Homo sapiens: one gene and its partners. The protein of the gene in region 3 interacts with the protein of the main gene of each other region in a biochemical or structural test. Each region holds a gene or a part of one and is shown on either strand. Other genes may lie near its edges. The genes, in order: CRB2, SDC3, GIPC2, GNG4, ATRNL1, TMEM151B and PRR16.

What was found.
Region 1: the proteins of GIPC2 (region 3) and CRB2 interact in a test that uses a peptide from one of them, tested with the Homo sapiens proteins (one large-scale study listed by IntAct).
Region 2: the proteins of GIPC2 (region 3) and SDC3 interact in a test that uses a peptide from one of them, tested with the Homo sapiens proteins (one large-scale study listed by IntAct).
Region 4: the proteins of GIPC2 (region 3) and GNG4 interact in a test that uses a peptide from one of them, tested with the Homo sapiens proteins (one large-scale study listed by IntAct).
Region 5: the proteins of GIPC2 (region 3) and ATRNL1 interact in a test that uses a peptide from one of them, tested with the Homo sapiens proteins (one large-scale study listed by IntAct).
Region 6: the proteins of GIPC2 (region 3) and TMEM151B interact in a test that uses a peptide from one of them, tested with the Homo sapiens proteins (one large-scale study listed by IntAct).
Region 7: the proteins of GIPC2 (region 3) and PRR16 interact in a test that uses a peptide from one of them, tested with the Homo sapiens proteins (one large-scale study listed by IntAct).

Annotation. Positions count from the first base shown.
Region 1 is NC_000009.12:123,359,197-123,362,696, reverse strand, and holds part of CRB2 (protein crumbs homolog 2 precursor), read right to left. Parts: intron 1-3,500. UniProt on the Homo sapiens protein: Apical polarity protein that plays a central role during the epithelial-to-mesenchymal transition (EMT) at gastrulation, when newly specified mesodermal cells move inside the embryo.
Region 2 is NC_000001.11:30,877,759-30,881,258, forward strand, and holds part of SDC3 (syndecan-3), read right to left. Parts: intron 2,333-3,500; exon of another isoform or gene 1,183-2,332; coding exon of another isoform or gene 1,171-1,182; intron 983-1,170; coding exon 865-982; intron 1-864. UniProt on the Homo sapiens protein: Cell surface proteoglycan that may bear heparan sulfate. May have a role in the organization of cell shape by affecting the actin cytoskeleton, possibly by transferring signals from the cell surface in a sugar-dependent mechanism.
Region 3 is NC_000001.11:78,132,966-78,135,954, reverse strand, and holds part of GIPC2 (PDZ domain-containing protein GIPC2), read right to left. Parts: intron 907-2,989; exon of another isoform or gene 774-906; intron 364-773; coding exon 212-363; 3' UTR 1-211.
Region 4 is NC_000001.11:235,576,785-235,580,284, reverse strand, and holds part of GNG4 (guanine nucleotide-binding protein G(I)/G(S)/G(O) subunit gamma-4), read left to right. Parts: intron 1-3,500. UniProt on the Homo sapiens protein: Guanine nucleotide-binding proteins (G proteins) are involved as a modulator or transducer in various transmembrane signaling systems.
Region 5 is NC_000010.11:115,099,865-115,103,364, reverse strand, and holds part of ATRNL1 (attractin-like protein 1 isoform 1 precursor), read right to left. Parts: intron 1-3,500. UniProt on the Homo sapiens protein: May play a role in melanocortin signaling pathways that regulate energy homeostasis.
Region 6 is NC_000006.12:44,276,697-44,279,944, reverse strand, and holds the end of TMEM151B (transmembrane protein 151B), read right to left. Parts: 3' UTR 501-3,248; downstream 1-500.
Region 7 is NC_000005.10:120,470,800-120,474,299, reverse strand, and holds part of PRR16 (protein Largen), read right to left. Parts: intron 1-3,500. UniProt on the Homo sapiens protein: Regulator of cell size that promotes cell size increase independently of mTOR and Hippo signaling pathways. Acts by stimulating the translation of specific mRNAs, including those encoding proteins affecting mitochondrial functions.

The DNA of each region.
Region 1 (3,500 bases), on a different chromosome or scaffold from region 3:
ATCTGCACCCAGAACTGGGAACGGTTTTAGGAGAGCCTATATAGCAGAGAAACAGCACCAAGGATGTCTGGCTTCTGGGCAGGATTAGTGAGCAGAGGTTCCCTGAGCCCCGTGAGCTTCCCTCCACTGTCTTGTCCCTGCAGTCCCCCTTTGAGGCAGTATCCGTCATGCCCATTGCACCAGACAGCAAAAGGAGGCCCAGGAAAGAAAGTGAAGGCTTGCTGAGCCTGCCCAGCCCTGTCCACTTCACACAGCAAGTTAGTGTTCGCTGGGACAGGCTTCAAGGTCTATCTGGATTATTTCAGCTCCACCTGGGGAGGGGTCTCCCTCCTGCAGGCCCCATCCATCCAAGGAGGCCCCAGAGGGTGAGGCTCCTCCCACTGCCCCCTCCACCTCTTCTGCCAGGGGTCTGGTAACTCCATCCCTGGGTGAAACTGGAGATGGGCCCGACCTCAACCTCTGGAGGATGGGTGGACAACTTCAAAAGCAGGGATCGTGTGCTCCGCTGGTCTCATTCCTACCCCTTCTCCACATCACTACCCACCCCCTGCCAGCCACTGGCCTAGGAACTTCTAGAGGGTCCCTGGCCCTAATTTCATCCCCCATCAGCAAACACCTGAGTGGCCGGCCTGGCCAAGGTCGCATGGTACAGAGCAGGTATTGAGATGGCTCACGGACACCTGCCCCTGGCCACCATGATGCTTCCAGCACCGGGGCTCTAACAGAGGGTCACCAACCGGCTTGGAAGCCACGCCCAGAGATCCTCATCCCCCTTCCTCTCCTCCTGCCTTCCTGAGAGCCTTGTCACCACAATGCCCAGGTGAGAACTTGAGCTTTGAAGTGAAACAGACCTGGGTTCAATTTCAGCTCAGAAAGTTCCTAGCTATGAGACCCTGGGTAAGTCATTTCTCCTACAGAGCCTCCGTTTCCCAGTCTGAAAATTAGATCATAAAAGAATCCCCTCATCAAATGCTGAACTATTCAGCTCCCCAGCACCGCAGTCAAGGGCTGCTTTTGGTAACAACTCGGTAAGGGATGGGGGAGGAGAGCCTCCAGAAGACACAGCCTCCATTCCTCCCCCCACCCCCATCCGGAGCTCCCAAAGGTGCCCCTCCCCCACCCAGGTTGTCATCTAGACACTCACCAGACCCCAGAACAGCTCAGACCCTGCACCCTTCCCTCCCCCACTCTGGTGAAGCCCCCCAGATAAGGCTGGCAGCCTCTCAGGCGTCATCCGCATTCCAGGCAGGGCTGTCCTGTGGCCTGACCCGCATCCTTCCAGCTCCCCCAGGAAAGGGCACAGGTTTGGGGCATCGGGCAGTCCTGGTTTGTATCTGGGGTGCAAAAAGTGCCCATCTCATGGAGGTGTTGAAAGGATTCACCAAGGTGATGCAGGGCACAGCCCTGGGACTGGGTGTGGCCAGCACTGCTCAGGAGGGTGCAGCACTCATAACCCATGGTAAAGGGCCCCGGCTGCCAGCGCCTGTGCCAACAGGTCCCTCACTTAATTCCCACAGAGCACTGTCCCTCACCTGTGCAGTGCAAGGAACCCCCCCCCCTCCCCGCCCATCCAATCTGAAGCTTTGCCCCCTATCTCAGAGCAGCTGGGACCACGCTGGGGAGGCAGCACCGGGGAAAGGATCCTGGGGGGCGGGGGAGGTGCCTTGTCACAAGGGATCTTCCCAGGACCATGGGAGCAGATGGGCTCTAAATGACAGAGCCCGGGAGACAGAGTCCAACCCCATGGGAGGAAGGAATTTCTCCAGTCAGAGCCAGGCAGGAAGGGAAGGAGCTGCCCGTCCTGGGAGGCATGCAATAGTGCCACAGTCCTGCCTGGGAGGGACAGCCATCTTTCATGTGTCATCTCAGTTGATCTTGGCATTTACCTCCGAGGTGGATAGGATTATGATGCCTGTTTTACAGCTCAGGAAAGGGAGACTCGAAGCAGCCTCACAGTCCACAGCCCAAGGGAGGCTGGAATCCAAACCCAGGGCCTCACTCCAAGCTTCCCGGAATCACGGGCCCACATTAAGAATACAGATTCCTGGAACCCACTCCAGACCCCAAATTTAGAACCACTGGGCCCTGAGCCTGAGAATCTGCATCGCAACCTGCTCCTGGGGGATTCCTTTCACTTTTAGGTGTGGGAACCGCTGACCTCAGGTTGTCTCTGTCTTCCAGGAGTGAGCCTAGGAGGCCACGATAGCCCAGGCCAGACAGGAGAGGCAAGGAGGGGCGGGGTGTGGAGGGCAGCAGGGCGGAGGAGGGGCTGTCCCCCCTTCCCGGGCCAGGCTGGAGGGGCGGGGCCTGTTGCCAGGGCAACGAGGGGCCTGTGCTTATCTTTACAAATCCCTCCTGACCTCAGGCTGCCTGGGCCGACCTGGCAGGGAGGGATTAACCGACGCCCGCCCCTCCCCTTCGACCTGCTGCCCTGTCCTGGGGAGGGGCAGGAGGACCCAGCTGTTTACTGAGTGTGTACTATGTGCTTGGGCCTGTGCATCTATTATTACATTGTTATACTTGATTCAGACCAGAAAAGGTGGGTGCCATTAAGAAAATTTCTGTTTTTGTAACTCAGAGAGGTTGATAATTTTGCCCAGGTTGAGACGAAGAATCAGATCAGCTCCTGATTTCCCAGAGGTCCACATCTCCCAATGCATGTGAAATTTTCACTTTACAAACCCTAAATTGCCACTCACATATTGTTGCTTTAGTACATTACAGCTGCCTCACCCAGGAAAAAAAAAAAATCTCTAAAGGTTTTCACAGGAATACAGCTTCCAATATCAGCCTGGGCAGAGCAGGCAATCTTCCCCGTCTATCCAGAACCCAGCTGTCAGTAATCCCACTGTGTCTCAGGCCTCACTCATTAGTAACTCCTACTTTTCATGCACTTAGAATGGGCCTGTTTATAACAGCCAACAACTGATGAGAAGTGTTTTACTGAAGCCAGGTGCAGTGGCTCACACCTGTAATCCCAGCACTTTGGGAAGCTGAGGTGGGAGGATCACTTCAGGCCAGGAGCTCAAGACCAGCCTGTGCAAACATAGTGAGACGCTGGCTCTATGAAAACAAAACGAAATAAGCCAAGCATGGGGTGGGTCCCTGTAGTCCCAGCTGCTTGGGAGGCTGAGGTGGGAGGATGGCTTGAGCCCAGGGTGTCGAGGCTACAGTGGGCTATGATTTTGCCACTGCACTGCAGCCAGGGCAACAGGGTGAGACCCTTTCTTAAAAAAAAAAAAAAAAAAAAAAAAACAAAACAAAAACGAAAAACCACAAACAAAAAAAGAAGCATTTACTGGGGAAGCTTCCTGTCCCAACAAATCAAGAGACAGAATATTTCTAAGAAGCGACCTAAGATCTCATAAGGTGTGGGAACTTCTAGCATAGGGGAAGAAATTGTTCATCTAATATCCCTGGGCCCCAAGGCTCTACCCTACAAGGGTAGGGCTGAATAACCATGGAGGCTTGCAGACACTCACTCAGTCATCAGGAAAGGG
Region 2 (3,500 bases), about 47 Mb from region 3:
TCCTGGGCTCGGAACCAGGCAGGAGGGAGGGGAGCCAGGGAACTTTGCGAATAGAGATGTGACCCAATATAAACGGGTTTTACAAAGATTAATTTGAAAGAGGCTCAAAGGACTTGGCTAAGGAGGGGAGACCAGAGGCGAGGGCTGTGGGGAGCCAGCTCTGTGGCGTGCAGACCCCGTACCATCTCCTCAGATGCCAGCCCGTGCCCTCACTGGGCCCAGTCTCAGCTGCCTTCTTTTTGCTACCATTTTGAGAGCTCCTCCTCTGTGCCAGACCCCAGCTTCCTATCCCAAACCCTCCTAGAGGCACTGAGAAGAAGTCGTATTTCTCACCATCCACAGGTGAAAATACAGGGATTCAGGGAGGGGGAGCACCGAGGGGCACACAGTTGCTACATGGCAGAGTGGGGTTCGCGGTGCCCTTCTCTCCCGAGATTCTGCTAGACCCAGCTGACCTGGCTCCCCTTCCCCAGGGCGGGGCCATCCCAGGCACCACTTGAAGCACCTGCCCTGTGTCATCACTGCCCTAACCCCACCATTGGCCACAGCTTATTGCACCTGACGGGACCACCGGAACCAAGCAAGGTCTGCAGAGAAAGCCACATAGCACACACAAAGATGCAGACGTGGGACCCTGGAGACCTGGACATTCTGGGCCCTGAGGTCCTCCCAGGTCTTGTTCTATCCCCAGAAGGATGTTCTGCCCTTCTTGTTCTGGGGATCCAGAGCAAGAAGAACTTGCCTGACCCAGGCAGTGAATGCCCCCTGCCTCACTGAAGCAAGCCCCCCGTGGGCTTCTCAGAGTTGAGGCTGGATACAGACTGGTCACTGCCCCCAGGCAGAGGTAGGGAGGGGGGTACTTACAGCCCGAGCCCGACCCCGAGTAGAGGTCATCCAGTTCATCATCGGGAAAGGAGTCATCATCCCCAGAGCCCTCCAGGTCCACGGGTCTCTCGAAGTTCTCACTGCGCCAGCGCTGGGCCTAGGGAAGGTAGAGGTGGACACAGGGCTCGGCACCCGAGACTGGCAGCCTGGGTGAGCCCAGAAGGGCGACAGGTGCCCTTGTGGGCTGAGTGACATCCACGTGGGTGACAGAGATCTTGTGTGTACCCTGAAGGAAAGTGCGTGTGTGAATAATTCACAGGGCAGGGGTGGGGTGTGGCAAGTCACCTGGGGTCCCATCCCAGAAGGCTTTCAGTGTCTGGCTGATGACTTTCTCTTAGAAACTGGTCATTTTTCATCTTGACTGCACATCTGAATATTGTGAAAACTAAATTCAGTGGTTCAGTAGGTCTGGGGTGGTCTCTGAGCAGCCGCAATGTTGGGCTGGCTGTGGGGAGCCCTGGGGCATGTGTGAGCAGGCGAGGGCTGGAATGGCCCTGCATTTGGGGCCCAGCCTCTCACCCCCTGCCACTGATGGGCCCCCTTCTGGAGTTGATACAGAGCCAGAGTGAGGATCTCAATCCTGTCTTCATATCCCCAGCCTCAACCACCTGCTCCAGAGCCCTGCCCAGCCCAGCCAGGGCAGGGAGCCAGGAGGTGCCCCCTCACAAAATGCACACACACACATAGTCTCAAAGTAATGAATTAATCAGTATTTACTTTCTACCAGTGAGTCATGGAGTGGAACAATTAGTGTAATTTCTCCCGTGACGAATTGCTGGGTCTTCCTCCTTTTTTAAACATTCTAGGAGCTCAGAGCAGTAGGGCCCAACTTTTCCCCAGCTCCCCTCTGCCCAGAAAGAAAAATACCCACGGTGGAGGAGCTAGAACTCCCCATGGCACTCCCCTCCACAACCTGAACCAGCCAACCTGGAGTCCCTGCTCCCTCCAGCTCTCTGGCAAGCAGCCTGAAGTCACACAGAAGAATGGGGACTGAGCAGGGACCCAGGCTCCGGCTCCTGCCCCTGCCCAGGGCTGTCTTCACTGTCTTTCTATCCTTCCCAGTAGGCTGGGCAGTGGCTGGGAGGCCTTTAGCTGGGAGGAGGGATACTAAGAGGTCTGTGGTCCCTGGAAGCCCCCAACTGAAGTAAATGTGGGTGCCAAAACAAGGGAGTCCCCAAGATTCCTCAGTGACCAGTGCCACTTAGCCCCTAACTTCCTGCTCCAAGAAAAGCCTGTACAAACCCAAAGACCTACCCCCATGCCACATAGACCCTTGAAATGACACACCCCAGAGACACAGCACATGCACAGACACACACTGAAACATGCTCACCTAAAAGCAGCCACAGAGGGCTCAGCGTGTCAGCATGCCTGGGGGTAAAAACAGCCACTCACATGGGGCAGGAGGAGCTGGGCCTGCTGTGCAGCTCTGAGCTCAGAGACAAGCATCGAGCCTCCTGGAAACCCATCAGCCTCCACTCAGGTAGCGCTCACCTACATACTATTCATCCCCAGCTCAGTAGCCATCGACATGACAACCGTTACCATGACGACCATCTTCTCCATGCTAACGACCAGGAGCTGCAGCTCCCCACAGAGATGGGGTGGTACAGGAGAGGGAGAGATCACGGGGGAACTGAGAGGATGACAGGGAAGGGGGAGGCAGAGACAGAGACGGTGACAGAGAGTCGAGGACTGAGGGAGGCCAGGGGGCAGAGGGGCAGAGACGGGGAGGGTGGGCTGGGGGTACGAGAGAAGGAGAGAAGGCAAGGGTGGGAGGCAGAGGGGAGAACTCACACATCCTAATTTAGCCTCATGCTGATGAGGCAAGGCTGGGGAAGGGGCCACCTCAGTAATTTTCCAAACCTGCTTCCAAGAGTACATTCTTTCCGAACAGCAAGCATCCCCAATGGCAGGGTGTGCAGGGGGAGGAACGGCCCAGTCACCCCTGAGCCCACCTGGGATGCTCAGCGGGAACTTAATGCGAGGACACCTGGGACCTGCAGGCATGGGCGCTGGGACTCATGAGGCCCTCTCAGGAACACTACAGAGGGGGTGCTGGTAGCTGCAACTCCCAGAGGGGACAGAGAAATAGGGGTTGGGGAACGGAGCCTGGGAGGCAGCAGGGAAAGCCTTAGAAGTCACAGAATGCCTGAGGAGGAGGGTGACAAGCAGGCTTTGACCCCCAAACGACCTCCGCATTTGCATAATCCATCATAATAAGCATAATTATCCATGCCATTCCCTTAAAGGAGAACTGAATCCAAAAGCCCCAGGACGCTGCCAGCTTCTCCTTGACCCTCACTGTGCCCCCTCCAGGTAAACACAACCCCCCCATGCCTGATAGGAGGCTTCCATACCCCCAAGACACGCGCGCACGCATGCACACACACACACACACACACACACACGACAGCCCAACATCCTCATGCATATATATTCTTCTGCATGTACTATGCACCCCAATGGATACACACACACACTATTAAGTGCAATGTTTGCCCACACCAATCTGTATACTCACCACAGCCTATAGGCAATACAGCCCAGCCCACACCAGCACACACTCACCCATCTACTTCACCCCTAGCTGCCTGTACACATGCCCTAGGGTA
Region 3 (2,989 bases):
TTAGGTCATTTCTCTTAAGCATACTACATCAGCAATGTTAAAAAGTGCCCAGAAATCAAAATTACCAAAATTATATTTCAAAGAATATATTCCATACACATGAAATTAAACCAGAGTTAGTAAAGGTGTCCAAAAACAGATCTTATAGGACTTTTTAAAAAAGAGAAAAAAAAGAACGATGGGTTGTTTCTTCAGAGATGGAGTGTACACATCATAATCCTCTTCGTTTGGCATCACCAATGACTCCCCAAACATCAAAGACAAATTCGTCTGGGAACGCAAAGTCTCCAAGAGTTTCGTCAAGTGCCACAGCAAATTCATCTGGATTTACTTTGTCCTTTCCAGCTTCAAACATTGTGGTGGCTATCAAAAATAATATTAAAAAATTAACAATAAATGAAATAGCATCAAAGGACTGAGAAAAATGGCAACAGGAAAATTACTTGCTAAAAGTAACATGCATAAATATATTTCAAATTAAATGCAAAATTAAATGCAAATTAAAACAGTAAGATACCCTCTCTCACACACACACATCAAGGTGGCAAAGATACTTTTCAACAATGTGTCCACTGAACCCAGGTTTGCAGCTGCCACCCTTGCCCCCTACCCAACCTTGGAGCCCATCAGTTGGGAACCTCTGGCATTCCCATGGGTAGAACAAGATCCCCTGAAAGAAACCCTGTGGCTGTGACTAACCCTAGCAGGAAACTTAAAGAACACCCCTTCCCCAACCTCCTAATAGTCACTACTCTCCCTCCCTCCTCCACCAGTCCCCCACTGCCAACTGAGATGGAGTCCAGTCCTCCCTGCCCAAAGACAAAAAGACAAAGGATGACAGCTTGCACTGGAGCAGTCAAGCTGGGGAGAAGCAGAGGAAGACATCTGTCTACCTGTGGAATCAAGGTACCTTTTCTGAGCCCCTCTCCAGTTTGGGATAGAACATGAAAGTGGCGGCCTTGTTCAGTTTTTCTACTAAGTTGCCTGGGTTCCATATTCTATGTCTTGGAACCAGCATCTTCAGGAGTACTTAGGACTTGCCCCAGCTGTCTGGGAGCCCAAGAGGCTCAGTGGATTTCCACTCAGCACCCTAGAAGCACCAGCAACCAGAAAGAGATGGTGTATATGTGATGTGGGACTTGGGTGAAAAACCTCCATGTGAAAGGGAAACGCCAAAGCCCCAGGGAAAAGCTCCAGCATCTCCTTTCCTTCCAGGTTAAGGATGAACTAATCCAAGTTTGTATGACTTCTCTGAACGAGCCACAAGGTCTAGAGAGATAAAAGCTATGCCTCTTCCCATCAGTTCAGTCCTAACACAAGGCAGGCTAGGAAGAAAAGGGAGAGATGTGGCCTACAGAAGAGCACCAGGATCAGAGCAGAAGTAGGGTGGGGGTGCAGTGAACTAGTAGAGGGATCAAACCTCTAGTAAGGTAAGGAGGGCTTCTATATGGCCAGGCAGCCTGGCATGGGGTGGGAGAGTACAGATGTGGTGAGGATGGCATGGGAATGGGGAGGGAGGGCAGCAGCCACGGTGATAAGAGATTAGTTACACATATGGAGATGGATCACATACATACACACACACATACATACACACACACACACACACATACATACACACATACACAGACACATACATACAGAACAACAGGAATCAAGTTTGTCACTGCCAGAAAAGGATAAATAGGGAAAGGGAGAAAATAAGAATGAACCCTATGGAATTAGAATTGTAGATATCACTGGAAATATATATATATCTCCAATTGAGGTGTTATAAAAATACAGACATAAATGCATACATGCATGTGTATACACATTCCTCAGTCCTGGAAGCATGACATCCCAACTACAATGAGTACACAAAGCACCGAAATCTTGGTTCTTAAATACCATTCTCCATTAGAAAGACTAAGACTTCCTCAGAAAAATGGCAGATTCCAGGGCTAGAGCAGGCAAAGTGCAATATGAACCAAGACTATCTTGTACCAGAAAGTAAGAAAGTGTCACAAAATGATGGGAACATGTGAAAAGGATATAGATGTCAGAGTGCAAGAGTTCACACTGACCAAATCAGGGATAATTTAAATATCCAAATAAGTAATGATGGTAATATATTATAACTCCAGTGAATAGAACAGGAAGCCATGAATCCATAATACATACATACACACACACACACACACACACACACACACACACACACAATTTTTTTTTCCTTGTGTAACCAATGTTTATCTTTAAAACTAAACCCTAGTGGCAGTCTAATCTACAGAACCCTTGGTTCTCACTACACTACACTACATTAATGCTGTACCCTCATAAATCTGACCACTCAAAATGCTATCTTCGCTGCTTTCTGCCTTTGCCCAGGATAACCTCCTCCTAGCCACCAGCACCACCATCAAAATCCTTCTCTCCTTCAAGGCTCTCTCCTCCATGAAATCCTTTGTCCACAGCTGGAAGAGATATCCCCATTCTCTAAACCCTTCTGCCAGTGTTTTTCATGCTTAAATGCACAAACAAATCACCTAGGATCTTGGCAAAATGGAGATTTTGGTTCAGTAGTTCTGCAGCCCTGAGATTCTGCATTTTCAACTCCCAGGTGATGCTGGTCCTCAGGAAACACTTTCAATAAAAAGGTCTTAGACTGCAAATTCAACATTGCTCTGCACTGACATTTATTTTTCTGTGTATTTTTTTCTCTCCTACTAAAAGAATAAACTCCCAACAGATCTTGAGTAGCTTACTCAGTCTTTTATGCCCGTAGTAACTAATTCAGTGTCTCATGCATAATAAATGCTAGTGAATGGGTGGTGCAAGAGGAGGGTGTGTAATTACACTTACATACTTTTTGCACAGGCACAGTTAGCATGCACTGGGGAAAGTGAAGTCCAGAACTCTGGTCTCATAGCCAGGATGTAAAAGAAGAGTAGCCAGAATGTTAAGGTGAAGTACTGCTGAAGTAGAACTCCAGTTCAGAATTTTGCTT
Region 4 (3,500 bases), about 160 Mb from region 3:
TCAGTGCCAACTCCCCATTCGCCCTGCCCATGCCTGGTGACCACCGTTCTACCTTTTTCCTCTGTGAATCTGACTACACTAGGTATCTCATATAAGTGGGATCATACAGTATTTATCTTTTTGTTCCTGTCTTATTTCACTTAACTTATCGTCCTTAAGATCCATCTATGTTGTAGCCTGTATCAGAACATCATTCCTTTTCAGGGCTGAGTTGTATTCCATTGCATGGATAGACCACATTTTGTTATCCATTCATCCATTGATGGACACCTGGGTTATCTCCACCTTTGGACTATTGTAAATAATGCTGTTAGGAACATGGGTGTGCAGGTATCTGTTGGAGTCTTTACTTTGGTTCCTTTGGGTACCCACAAGTGGAATTGCTGGATCATAGGGTAACTCTATGTTCAACCTTTTTACCTTTTTTTTTTTGAGAGATGGAGTCTCACTCTGTTGCCTGGGCTGGAGTGCAGTGGCATGATCTCAGCTCACTGCAACCTCTGCCTCCTGAGTTCAAGTGGTTTTCCTGCCTCAGCTTCCCAAGTAGCTGGGATCACAGGCATGAGCCACTACACCCAGCTAATTTTTGTTTTTAGTAGAGACAGGGTTTTACTATATGTTGGCCAGGCTGGTCTCGAACTCCTGACCTCAGGTAATCTGCCTGTCTCGGCCTCTCTAAGTGCTGGGATTACAGGCCTGAGCCACCATGCCCGGCCTTATGTTCAGCCTTTGGAGGAACTGTCACGCTGCTTACACAGGGGCTTCATCACGTCACGTCATCACCAGCAGTGCACAGGAATTCCCGTTTCTCCACATCCTGACCAGCACTTGTTTTCTGGGTTTTTTTTTATTAATGTATTTACTTTTTTTTTTTTATTAATGTATTTACTTTGACAAGTAAAAATTAAAGTCACTCACTATCATGACGACAGTACTGAGGGGGATGGTGTATATTTATGGTGTACAACATGAAGTTTTGACATAGGCATACATTGTGGAATGGCTAAGTCAAGCCATTTAATGTATGTATTCTCTCACATACTTAGTTTTCTGTGGTGAGAACACTTAAAACCTATTCTCTTAGCAATTTTCAAGTATACAATACATTGTTATTAATTGTAGTCACCATGATGTGCAATAAACCTCTCGAATTTATTTCTTCTAACTGAATTTTTTTTTTTTTTTTTTGAGATGGAGTCTTGCTCTGTCACCCAGGCTGGAGTGCAGTGGCATGATCTCGGCTCACTGCAACCCCTGCCTCGCGGGTTCAAGCAATTCTTCTGCCTCAGCCTCCCAAGTAGCTGGGATTACAAGTGTGCACCACCGCGTCCAGCTAATTTTTGTATTATTAGTAGAGACGGGGTTCGCCATGTTGGCCAGGCTGGTCTCAAACTCCTGGTCTCAGGTGATCCGCCTGCCTTGGCCTCCCAAAGTGCTGGGATTACAGGCCTAAGCCACCGCAGCCAGCCCTGAAACTTTGTGTCCTTTGACCAACATCTCTCTAATCTCACCACCCCACAGCCTCAGGTAGCCACCATTTTACTCTCTATTTCTATAAATTTGACTTTTTTACACTCCACATATAAGTGAGATCATGCAGTATTTGTCCAGTGCATGGCTTATTTCATTTAATATAATATCCTTCAGGGTTACCCATATTTTCTCAAGTAATAAGATTTCCTTCTTTTTTAGGGCTCAGTAGTATTCTATTGTGTAAATATACCACATTTGCTTTATCCATTCATTCGCTGATAGACACTTAGGTTGATTCCATAACTTGGCTATTTTGACTAATGCTGCAATGAACACAGAAACACAGATCTTTCTTTGACATACTGATTTCGTCTCCTCGGGTTATATACCTAGTAGTGGGATTGCTGGATCCTATGGTAGTTCTATTTTTAATTTTTGAAAAACATCCACAGTTTTCCAAAATGGCTGTACTAAATTTAATTCCCACCAATGGCATACCACGGTTCCCTTTTCTCCAAACTCAGCAACACTTGTCATCTTGTGTATTTTTGATAATTGCCATCCTAACAGGTTTGATGTGATATCTTGCTGTAGCTTTCATTTGTATTTCCCTGATGATCTAGTGATGTCTGTTTTTTTAATAATAGTCACCCTAATGAGTATGAAGCTCACACATGGTTTTCAGCCCTAGGCATCCCTGGTTTCAGGGCACAGTGTGGCTTTGCAGAAAAATCTATGTGATGCAAGACTTGAAAGAAAAAAAAAGAAAAGGTGCATCTTGGTATCAGCCAGACTATACGAATGTGGAAAGAAAGGGGAGCTGTCAAGGACACTCCCGATGACCTCGTCAAGGACCTTGAGGAGGGAAGAGAGAGGAAGTCACCAGGGAAAGGCAATGGCCTTTCTGGGATGGGTACGAGGTTACTGCCAGAGAGGAGGAAGGAAAGAGGGAGGCTGGATAGGAAATGACAGAGGGCAGCCCTGGGGAAGGAGGAGAGGAGCAGTTTTTAGAATCCACTGAACTCGCACACACCATGTCAGAAACACCAGGGCCAGATGACAACACTGAGATGGGCCGGGCGCAGTGGCTCAAGCCTGTAATCCCAGCACTTTGGGAGGCCAGGGCGGGTGGATCACGAGTTCAGGAGTTTGAGACCAGCCTGACCAACATAGTGAAACCCCATCTGTACTAAAAATAGAAAACTTAGCCGGGCGTGGTGGCACGTGCCTGTAGCCGCAGCTACTTGGGAGGCTGAGGCAGGAGAATCACTCGAACCCAGGAGGCGGAGGTTGCAGTGAGCTGAGATTGCACCATTGCACTCCAGCCTGGGTGACAGAGCAAGACTCTACCTAAAAAGAAAAAAAAAGAAAACACTGAGATGGATTTTCCAAGGAAGAGGAAAAGGCCAGGCCCATACTGACTGCATAGTGAGAATGCCTAGCAGGTGAATGTGCACACGACGATAGGGCAGGCTGCATGGGAACCAGCTGGAGGGTCCATGGTAGGAATCGTGGCAACTCCCAGGCCCACAGAGCTGGCTTCCAGGTGAGAGCACGGCAGATGGGAACCCAAAGAGGACATCCCAGGCGAGGGCAGGTACCAGCAGGAAACCAAAAGGGAGCCCCCGGGATGGCATGGTATGTAGCCAACCATAGGGCCCACCACCAGGCTCTGTAGCTTATTGTGCTCAGGAGAGTTTCTAAGGAGGAAGGAAGGAAAAGAAGGCATTTGCCGCCCAGGAAAATAAGGGGACATCTGTCACTGGGAAGAGAAAGGAAAATATAACTGCATTAAGCAGTTCTGGGGTTGCAGAAGTAAGAAAGAGTAATAGTGCCAATTCAGAGAGCTTTGCACGATTCATGGAGGAAAAACGTAGCTGAAATATTCATTATTGTCTTGAAGTTCTGCTTGTCCCCATTTGCACAAAAGCACAAGTGCAAATATAGACTTCAGTAGGGGATATAGATTGAGGCATTACACCACAAAGCCCACAGCAAGATCTTAAACCCACACACAGTGTGGTTCA
Region 5 (3,500 bases), on a different chromosome or scaffold from region 3:
TATTTTGGTATAAAATCAAAAAATATGACCAGGCGCAGTGGCTCACATCTGTAATCCCAGCACTTTGGGAGGCTGAGGCAGGCGGATTGCCTGAGGTCAGAAGTTCGAGACCAGCCTAGCCAACATGGCGAAACCCCATCTCTACAAAAAATACAAAAAATCAGCCAGGCGTGATGATGGGCGCCCGTAATCCCAGCTACTCAGGAGGCTGAGGCACGAGAATCGCGTGAACCCAGGAAGCAGGGGTTGCATTGAGCCGAGATCATGCCATTGCACTCCAGCCTGAGTGACAGAGCATGACTCCATCTCAAAAAAAAAAAAAAACACTAAAAATATATACACAGAATCTGTATCTGATAACTACAAAAAACTGTTGTAAAAAATCAATGAAAACCCAAATAGATGAAAAAAACATACTGCAATGAAGAACGAGATAATTCAATATTATTTACATATCAATTCTCCTCAAAATGATTTACTAAGTCAACACAATCTCAATAAAAATCCCAGCAAGACTTTTTTAATTGACAAACAGTTCTAAAATGTATATGAAAAACAAAATGAACCAAGTAAATTTTCAAAAATAAAAATAAAGTTGGGGGAATCTCATTATCTAACTTCAAGATTTACTGTAAAAATATACTAATCTTAGCATTTTGGGAGGCCGAGGTGGGTGGATCACCTGAGGTCAGGAGTTAGAGACCACCAGCCTGGCCAACATGGCAAAACCTCATCTCTACCAAAAATACAAAAATTAGCCAGGTGAGGTGGCACATGCTTGTAATCCCAGCTGCTCAAGAGGCTGAGGCAGGAGAACCGCTTGAACCTGACGAGCAGAGATTTCAGTGAGCTGATACCATGCCACTGCACTCCAGCCTGGGCAACAGAGTGAGACTCCATCTCAAATATATGTATGTGTATATATATATACACATATACATACATTAATAAAGTACATACATACATTAATAAAGTGAGGAATTTGCAAAAGGATAGAGATATGGATCAATGGAACAGAAAAGAGTCAAAAAATAAATATACATAAAGACGTCCAATTAACTTTCAATAAAGGTACAAAGACATTAATGAAAAAAGGATAGTCTTTTCAACAAATGGTCATTGGATAACGATAAAGGCTCAGTTTATCAGGAGGACATAATCCAAAATTTTATGCACCTAATAACATAGTTTCAAAATACATGAAGGATAAACAGATAAGACTGCAGGGACAAACAGGTAAATACAAAATTATAACTGAAGATACCCTTCTCTCAATAAGTGGTAAAAACAGACAGAAAATCAGAATGGTTGTAGAAGACTTGAACAAGACTATCAACCAAGTTGACCTAACTGAAATGTATACAACACTCCACCCATCAATAGAAGAATACACATTATTTTCACACGCCCAAAAAAATACTTAACCAAGATAGACAATATTCTGGCCAATAAATTTTAAAGGATTCTAGTCATATAGCCTTCTGTATATTAAATAAGTTGAATGTATATTAATAAAAGTTGAATTTGGAGTTAAAGAAAACTTCAGGCCTAGAGGGTGTCGATGGTGAATTCCACCAAACACTAATGAAGAAATAATGCCAATTCCCTAAAAACTCTTTCAGCAAATGATCAGGAGAGTCCCATGGTGCTCATTATATGAGGCCAGCATTATCTTGTCACCAAAACTAGTCATATATTATAAGAAAAGTGCAGACTAATATCTCTCATGAACACAGATACAAAAATTCTAAATAAAACTTTAACAAACCAAATCCAACCTAAAATAAAAAGGAAAGCATATTGTGTCAGAGGAAGTTTATCTTAGGAATGTAAGGTTGGTTTAACATTCAAAAATTATGTACATAATTCACCATGTTAACAAACTTGAAAAAATCATATGATTATCTCAATGGGCACAGAAAATGCATTTAATACAATCCAGTTTCCATCACTGGTAAAAACTCTTGGCAAACTAGGAATAGAAGGGAACTTTCTCAGTGTGATAAAAGGCATCTAAAAAAAAAACTTACAGATAACATCATACTTCATGGTTAAAGATCAAATATCTCCCCCTAAATCTTAAGTAAGATTGACCACTCTCATCACCTCTATTCATTACTGTAATAGAGGTTCTGGCCAGTGAAATAAGGCAAGAAAAAAAAAGGCATCTAGATTGTAAAGAAAGAAGTAAATATATCTTTGTCTGTAAACAATATAATCATCTAAGTAGAAAGCCATAAGGAATCTGCAAAAATCTACCACAAGTAATAAGTAAGTTTGGCAAGATTGCAAGATAAAAAATCAAACATACACAAATCAGTTGTGTTTCAGTATAATAGCAACAATCAAAAGTGAAAGTTTAAAAAATGCCATTTACAATAGCATCCAAAAATATTAACTACTTAGGGAAAAATCTGACAAAAGAGGTGCAAGATCTATTGACTAGAAATTTAAAAACACTGCTGACAGATTAAACAACTAAATAAATAAACAGATATACCATGTAGGAAACTCAAAACTGACAAGGTATTCATTTTCCCCAAAATTGATCTATAGACTCAACATAATTACAAACAAAATCCTAGTAGGCTTTTTATAGAAACTGACAAGCTGATTCTAAAATTCATATGGAAATACAAAGGACTCAGAGTAGCCAAAATAATTGGAAAAGAACAAAACTGAAAAACACTCCCAGAATTCAAGACTTACAAAGAAACAATAATCAAGACATTGTTGTACTGACATACAAATAGACAAAGAGATCAAGAAACAAAGCAGAGTCCAGAAATAGAAACACAAATATATGAATGGTTTCAACAAAGGTGCAAAGCTACTTTAACAGAGAAAGAATACTCTTCTCAACAAATAGTGCTAAAACAAATACCTATATGCCAAAAAACTGAATTTAGATCCATACCTCTCCCCATATATAGAAATTAACTTAAAATGGACCATAAATATAAATGTAAAATCTAAAATTACAAAACTTCTAGAGAAAAAAAATGAAGAAAATCTTCATCAACTTGGTTTAGGCAGTTTTCTTTTTTTTTTTATTTTTTATTTTTTAAAGACATGGTCTTGCTGTGTTGCCCAGGATGGAGTACAGTGACACAATCACAGCTCAGCTCACTGCAGCCTCCAATTCCTGTGTTAAAGTGATCCTCCCATCTCAGCCTTCCAAGTAGATGGGCTAAATGCGCACACCGCCACGACCAGCTAATTTTTCAAATGTTTTTGTATAGGCAGTGTCTTGCCTTGTTTCCCAGGCTGCACTCAAATTCCTAGACTCAAGTGATCCTCCTGTCTCAGGCTCCCAAAGCGCTGGGATTACACACATGAGCCACAGTACCCAGCCTAGGCAAACTTTTCTTAGGCACAACATGAAAAGTATAAAAGAAAAAAATGATAAACTGGAATTAATCAATTTAAAACTTAGATTCTTTGAAAAATACTGTCAAGAGATTTCATTCTCTTTGCATTGTTTTCATAGACAAGCCGCA
Region 6 (3,248 bases), on a different chromosome or scaffold from region 3:
ACACCCACAAATGACCAACTTCTTTCAGGAACAGGGAAGTCAGAGAGGTGTCTGAGGGACTGTGCCTGCCAGATTCTCCCGTTGGGGCTGCCTGCCTCCCTGACTCCCCACCATTTTCTTCTCTACCAAACAGATCCTTGATCTTCAAACACACACACACACACACACACACACACACACACACACACACACACACCCTCTGGCTACAGCAGGGCTATGCCTGGCTCTCTCTGCCACCCTCATCCCTGTAGATGCATTTCCCTGTTGCTTGACTCTGCTTTAAGTGATCCAGTTCTACAGGCCACGCCATCCCCTAGTTCCCCAACTCCCAACCTGGGAAGGGGACAATGAGCTGACACCAGGGGCTCAGACCCAGTGGACTCCTCTGGGGAGGCAACTGTAGATGACAACTTCCAGGGAAGGATGACACAATCCCTGCCACCCACCCCAGAGAGCTTCCCTGGGAGGGAGGGAAAGAAGTGCCACACTGGGACAGGAAGTCAGTGAGTCATCCACGACTTTATTATCCACCAGTTTGATTTGTACAATCTTTGCGCTTAAATCCACGACAAAAAGGCCACAGTGTGATGCACCCAATTGACAGAGACCTGTCTTCTCCCCAGCCAGGCCCAGCCCACCCCACAAGCCCTTGTCCCCAGGACACATGGAGCCTTCCAGGTGCCCTACATGAGTCCCCCATCACTCTGTAGCTGTCCACCCTGGGGCCACACCTACAGGAATCACATCAGCCCCCAGGGCCACAAGAGACCTAGCTGACTGATTCAGGCTGAGCGCCATTGCCCATCCTCCTTGGGCTGATTCATTGGCCCAGAGCCTCCAGAACTGTGTCCCCAAAGGGCAGGTCATGGGCTACAACCCCAGTCCAGGAGTGCCTGCTCTCCAGGGACTCCTTCCGCTAAGCAGGCGCTGAGCAGAGCACCAAAGGGGGCTTGGGAGTGACTGCATGTGTGTGCCTGTCTAGGCAACCTAGAGTCTGTCTGTGCCTGACACCCTCTGACAGTTCCGGAGTGCAAACGTGTAGGTGTGAGGGTGTGTGTGTGTGTGTGTGTGTGTATAGCCACAGCTGCTAGCAGAAGTTCTAATTAGAGAAACAAGAACATTCAGTGTAAAGTTTAATTTTAGAGATTAATTAATTTTCTGGTTTTCATTTTCCCTGGCAATCAGTAAAGCTACCAAGAAAATAGACCAAAGAATTGGTTTCTCTCTAAGTCTGTGCATGTGTGGGAGATGAGGCTGTCTGAGACGACCTAGGCAGAAATGGTCAATACAGGCAAAAATAATAATAGAGGTCCCCCTTCCCCTCTTGTGAGACCAGGCTCTGTCTCAGGAACAGGCCTGAGGGAGGAGGAGCCACGTTCCTCCTTCCTTGGAGCCCTGAGGTGGCCAGGCTGTCCCCACACAAAGCATGACATCCAGGTGCCAGCTGGCTAAGAAATGGAGCCTGAGGCTGCAGCTCACCACCTGTACCTCACAGATGTCCATTCAGAGGAAAGAAGGGTGCTCCAAACGCCAGGCCCCCAAGGAGCACAGACTCAGGGTCCAGGCAGGTTCAGTGCTAGTAGGCAGGTGGGCACTGCTGTCCAGGAAAACCTGGTGGGCAGCTGTTTCCCCTGCCCAAGCCTCCCTCTCTCTAGCCTCTTCTCCCTCCTCACTCAGCCATCTCTACCTGAAAGTAAAGCTAAACCCTTTAGAAGCCATGGGCCATGGTATCCCCACAATTTGGGCCCCTCGCACTCCCCGCTAGGAAGAAGGGAAGGGGAGCCAGAGGCGATGTTGCATAGGTGGAGGCCACACAGTTGGTGGTGCAGGCCTGGCTGGGCTGAAGGAAGATGAGAGGGGCTGAAGGAGGGTAAGGAGGAGTTCTGATGGCTCAGGCGAAGTAAGAAGCATCAGGGGTGAGAGATGTGGGTGGCCCAAGGGTTATCCTCTCTAGCCTGAAATGTGAGCTCAATCCCTGGGTGCTAAATCTGCTGGGGAGACTTTAGCCAGGGGAGTTGGCAGGGCAGGAGGGCTGTTCACAGACATGCACACTGAAGCACATCAGGGTGGAGGTGGTGGGGGGAGCACACGGAGAGAAGGCGGTGTCAGAGCTTTAGGGGAACAGGACGTGGGGCCAGCGCCCTGGGGTGGTGGCAGGATGCCCCTTTGAAGACCCTGCGACACACAGCAGGGCTTCAGCTCATAGGATAGGGAAGGATGGAAGGGTTGGGCAAGATTTAGAGAATGCTTGCCTCTGACCCTGCCATTGGAATTATTTCTCCAGTTGGGGCTTGTGACAACGTCCTCAGTCCCCCAGAGATGTGTTTGAGCGACAAGCACACTCCACTCCTCCGCACAGGTTTAGGGAGGCAAAGGCCGCCCCCACAGACACCCCACCTCTGGAGGTCCTTTTCCTCTACCCTCCACTGCCCTCTCCTCTCTTACTCCCACCTGCTTCCAGAGGTCCCCGTTGCCACCCAGGTCTATGTCATGCTCTCTCCCCTTAGTCACTCGTGCTGGCCAGCTTTAACGAGTGCTGCCCGGGTGGCATCTCACTCTCTAAAAGGGGTATACACTCAGAACCCAGGTGAGGAGGCCCCTGTTGGGAGGCTGAGGAGTTTAGAGAGAGGACTGAGGTACACAGTCCTCCACATTTCACTCCCCTCCCCACTGCACCCTGGCAACAGCTCTGCAGGACTGGGGAGCGGAAGGTGAGTGATGTCTGTGCAGTGAGCACAGTCCCTCTGGACCTGGAGTGGGGGCCCAGTTAGATAAACAACAGTGGAGGGAGCGGCAGAAAGGAAACCCCAATCTTGGGGTCAGCGCCAAGAAGAGGGCAGCAACATTTCCACGGTGTTGGATGGAGGCCTAGGGCTGACACCTGGCCCCAGCCTCAGACCTGCTGAATGCATTAGCTAGTTGGAATCCAGCCTGCTGGTCACCAAACCATTGCCCCCTCCATAGAGAGAGGCCCCAGGGGAGTGAGGCCACGAAGGAAGGAAAGCCCCAAGTTCCCTTCTCCACAGCCTCTAAATCTCCCATCCGCATGCCAGGGCCTCTCCCTTCAGACAAGGCCCAACGCGGGGCCCACGGCACGGTTGTCATCTAACAGAAGATCTGTTGAAGGGCTGGACAGGAGGGAGGTGTCCCTTTAGGAACTCAGGGTTGGGGCTGGAAGAATGACTCTGCCAGGGGGATCTCGGGGAGCAGCCGACCCCCTCCCACCCATCGGTCTCTTTATGTACAGG
Region 7 (3,500 bases), on a different chromosome or scaffold from region 3:
ATCCCCCCAACAAAGAATTATCCACTCAATATGTCAATAGTGCAGAGTTTGAGAAACCCTGAGCCAGTGATTAAAGGTAAAAAGATGAAAGTATAGCAGATTTAGTCACCTCCCTGCTCAGAAGTCCCATTTTACTCTAAGGAAGAATCAAAATCCTTAGACATGTCCCCCATATCTATCTGACCTTATCACTGCTACTCTTGCCCTGCTCGTCCACTCCTGCCACCCTGGGCCCTTGTTCTGCTGCAAATGCATGGGAAACTTGTCCACTATAAGGCCCTTGGGCTGCTATTCCCTACTTGGGAAAATGCTCCCCTAGATTTCCTTACTGCTTGCTCCTTCACCTTCAAGCATTTTCCCCAATGCCACCATGCCACTTTCTCAGTGAGGCTTATTCTGAACAATCCTATTTAAAATTGCACTTCCTCCTCATCACTATTCATCCCATTATAATCTTCTATTACTTCATAAGATAAATCACCTTCTAATATTTGATGTAAACTAGTGTTTATTTTACTGAGCTATCTTCTCCCTACCCTCCCCATCCACTATGTAAACTCCATGAAGGAATTTTGTCTGTTTTGTTCCCCACTATATCCCTAGAAACTAGAACAGTGCCTGGTGTACAGTAGGTGTTAAACACTACTTGTTGAATAAATGAATAAAGGGGCTCAGACAAATTCAAATAATAACACTAATGACAGACACACATACAATGCTTGCTTTATGCATAGGAACCATTCTAAACGTTCTACAAAGAACTCATTTAATCTTCATAACCAACCTATACTGCACATAACACTGTCACTATCGCCACACTATGGAGAAAATGAAAACAGAGAGAAATTAAATAATGTGCTCAATATTGCACAGCAGAGCAATTTGAAAAAAAGCAGACTGGCTTCAGAGTTTGTGCTCTCACCCTTCTATACTATGCCACCTTACTGAGCAACACAGACTAAAAATTCTCCTATTCTTTAAAACAAAAGATAACCCCAAATATTTATCAAAAACATTGAGCTATGCAATAAAGAGGCAATCAAATTTATACTTCATTCTATATATAATTGGATAAACATAAATATACCTCTGATATTTGGGCTTTAAAATTACAAAGTTATGTCAATTCATAATAGCCTACAGTGTTATCACTGTCATCAAAAGTAAACAGAAAATAGTTACTTCAAGGGCAGATCACTAAGCTTATTCATATATGCATCTTTTACTTTCTTCAGCACAGTGACTTACACATATCAAGAATTCAATATGTCTTTCATAATTCATGTTAATGTGACATAAGAAAAAAATAAAACAAATAAAAATGCTGATCTGCAATCAGTTTTAAGAAGAGAATATGCTTAATTTACAATGAGTTCTGAAAACTTTTTGTCCATCTATTTACTGATATACTATGGCAAACATCATAAGAAACGACAAAATGAAAGAGTTAACTTTCAGACACACAAGCATTCTACAGCTTTTGCAAAGTCGTGAATTATAAATATACCACCTATTTTCACACTGACATCACATCCTAAGAGAAAGAAACTGTTGATATGCCACTCATTTTTTTCCCCTACATAAAAAACATCAAACCACAGCCATCAGTATTTCTTTTTTTTCTTTTTGTAGGGCCAGGACTTTTAATTCTGAAAATTATGGAGCCAAACCTCAAACAATTAGCTAAAATTTCTAAAAAATAAAATGGCAATCAACCACTTGTTTTGTCTCTTTACCTGAGTCATTCCCACCCACCCAAGATTCCCTGAACATGTGCAGGAACCACGTTTGTGTGAGCTTTTGTTCCAGAAGAAATAATCCCAACTTTTTTTCCTTTTTTCAAAGGGGTTTGTGATATGGGGGGAGGGAGACTATTAAGAACCACTGATGCTAGAAGGCAATTGATTTGACTGATATTGTTTAACCCAGTATTTTTCTCTCATATAAACACACAGTTTGAAATCTTGAGATAAGGTGATATTATGAAAGGGGAAAATGCACACCAATGTATCTGTTAACATTTGTGTGGTACTACAAAAAGAACCTGTCAGAAATCATCAAATTTTCTTTTTCCAGACAAGGATAACATATGTTATCTGTAGTTGAAAATCTATTTATAGTGTCCCAAACATCATGATAACTGTGTCATTGAGCATAAGTATGTAATTTGCCTAACTTCAATTATTCTACAAGTAAACATTTATCTCAAACACCAATCTGAAGCAGCATTTGCAAAGTAGAAAGAGAGAAAACAAAGATGATGAATATAAATTCAGTCCTAACAGTGTTAATATTTCTTGCCTGAAAGTGAGGTCTGGGAGTTTAAATTCTTTGGAATCCTCATGTCTTTCCATTCTAAATAAATAAATAGCTTATCCCATATAAGCAAGACAACATTTGTCCTGAGTTGACAGACTACCTTGTGAGTCTACTTTGATTTGGATATTAGATATGTCTTTATTTTCTCATTTCAGTTAATGCTACTTTCTGGTTCTTGTTTAAAGATGAATTTCTGCTGACTTTGGGTTCCCAGTTCCTGTGGGAAATTTAATTCAGAGTAATTATCCTAATGAACTAACTTTTAATACAATAAAAACATTTCTATTCATAACATACTGGAAAAGAAAACAAACAATTTTAGAATAAGGCCATTTCTTATAACCCTTATATGTGGGAGAGAGGAGGTGGTTTATAATCGATAGCACTAAAGTTAATACAAGAAATCGAATTATAATATATACATATGACATCATTAGCCAGTTCAATAATGTTGTTCCTAGTAAAGAATTCAACAAGATTCTCTAATTCATCAGTCATAGCAGAAAGCAAGAGAACTGTCAAACCTCAAACATCTCAGAAAACTTAAGGATAGTGCCTCTCTTCTAAGGTAATTTGATAGCAACAAAAGAGAATAATATATTCCAAATTATTTGTATTCTTTGAAACAATTATATACAATGCTAAGTATCAACGAGCTTCCATATTAGTTGTTCCTTTATTTTCTCAGCCAGAATATTAAAAATCTATGTAATATTCTTATCAACATTTTTGTTGAATAAGTTAAAGGTAATTAATCACAGCACATCTTTATTTGCAAATTTTAAATTGCAAGGTCTAATTTATTCACTATTAATTTTGTCTCAATACTGTTTTCTGCAACCTACAAAAATAATGACTGTTACCATGAAGATAATAAACTACACAGCAAGCCTTAATGAAATAATGAAATGGTTTATTAGCTTCACTCCCAATTTAAGAAACAGTGTCCATACATACGCTGCTGCTGCAAGCAAAAATTTGTGAAAACTCCCTGGAAGACAGTTTGGCAATATGAATTGAGAATTTTAAAGCTTTTAGATCCTTGACTTCTAAGAAAATGTTAAAAAAAAAATAGGAAACGTGAAAGAGCTTGGCGGTTAATGCTGTTCTTTGACACCAAGCTACCTGGCAATGAAGCTTCACTTCTCCACTTACAAGACAAGTGAGTTGGGCAAATGACT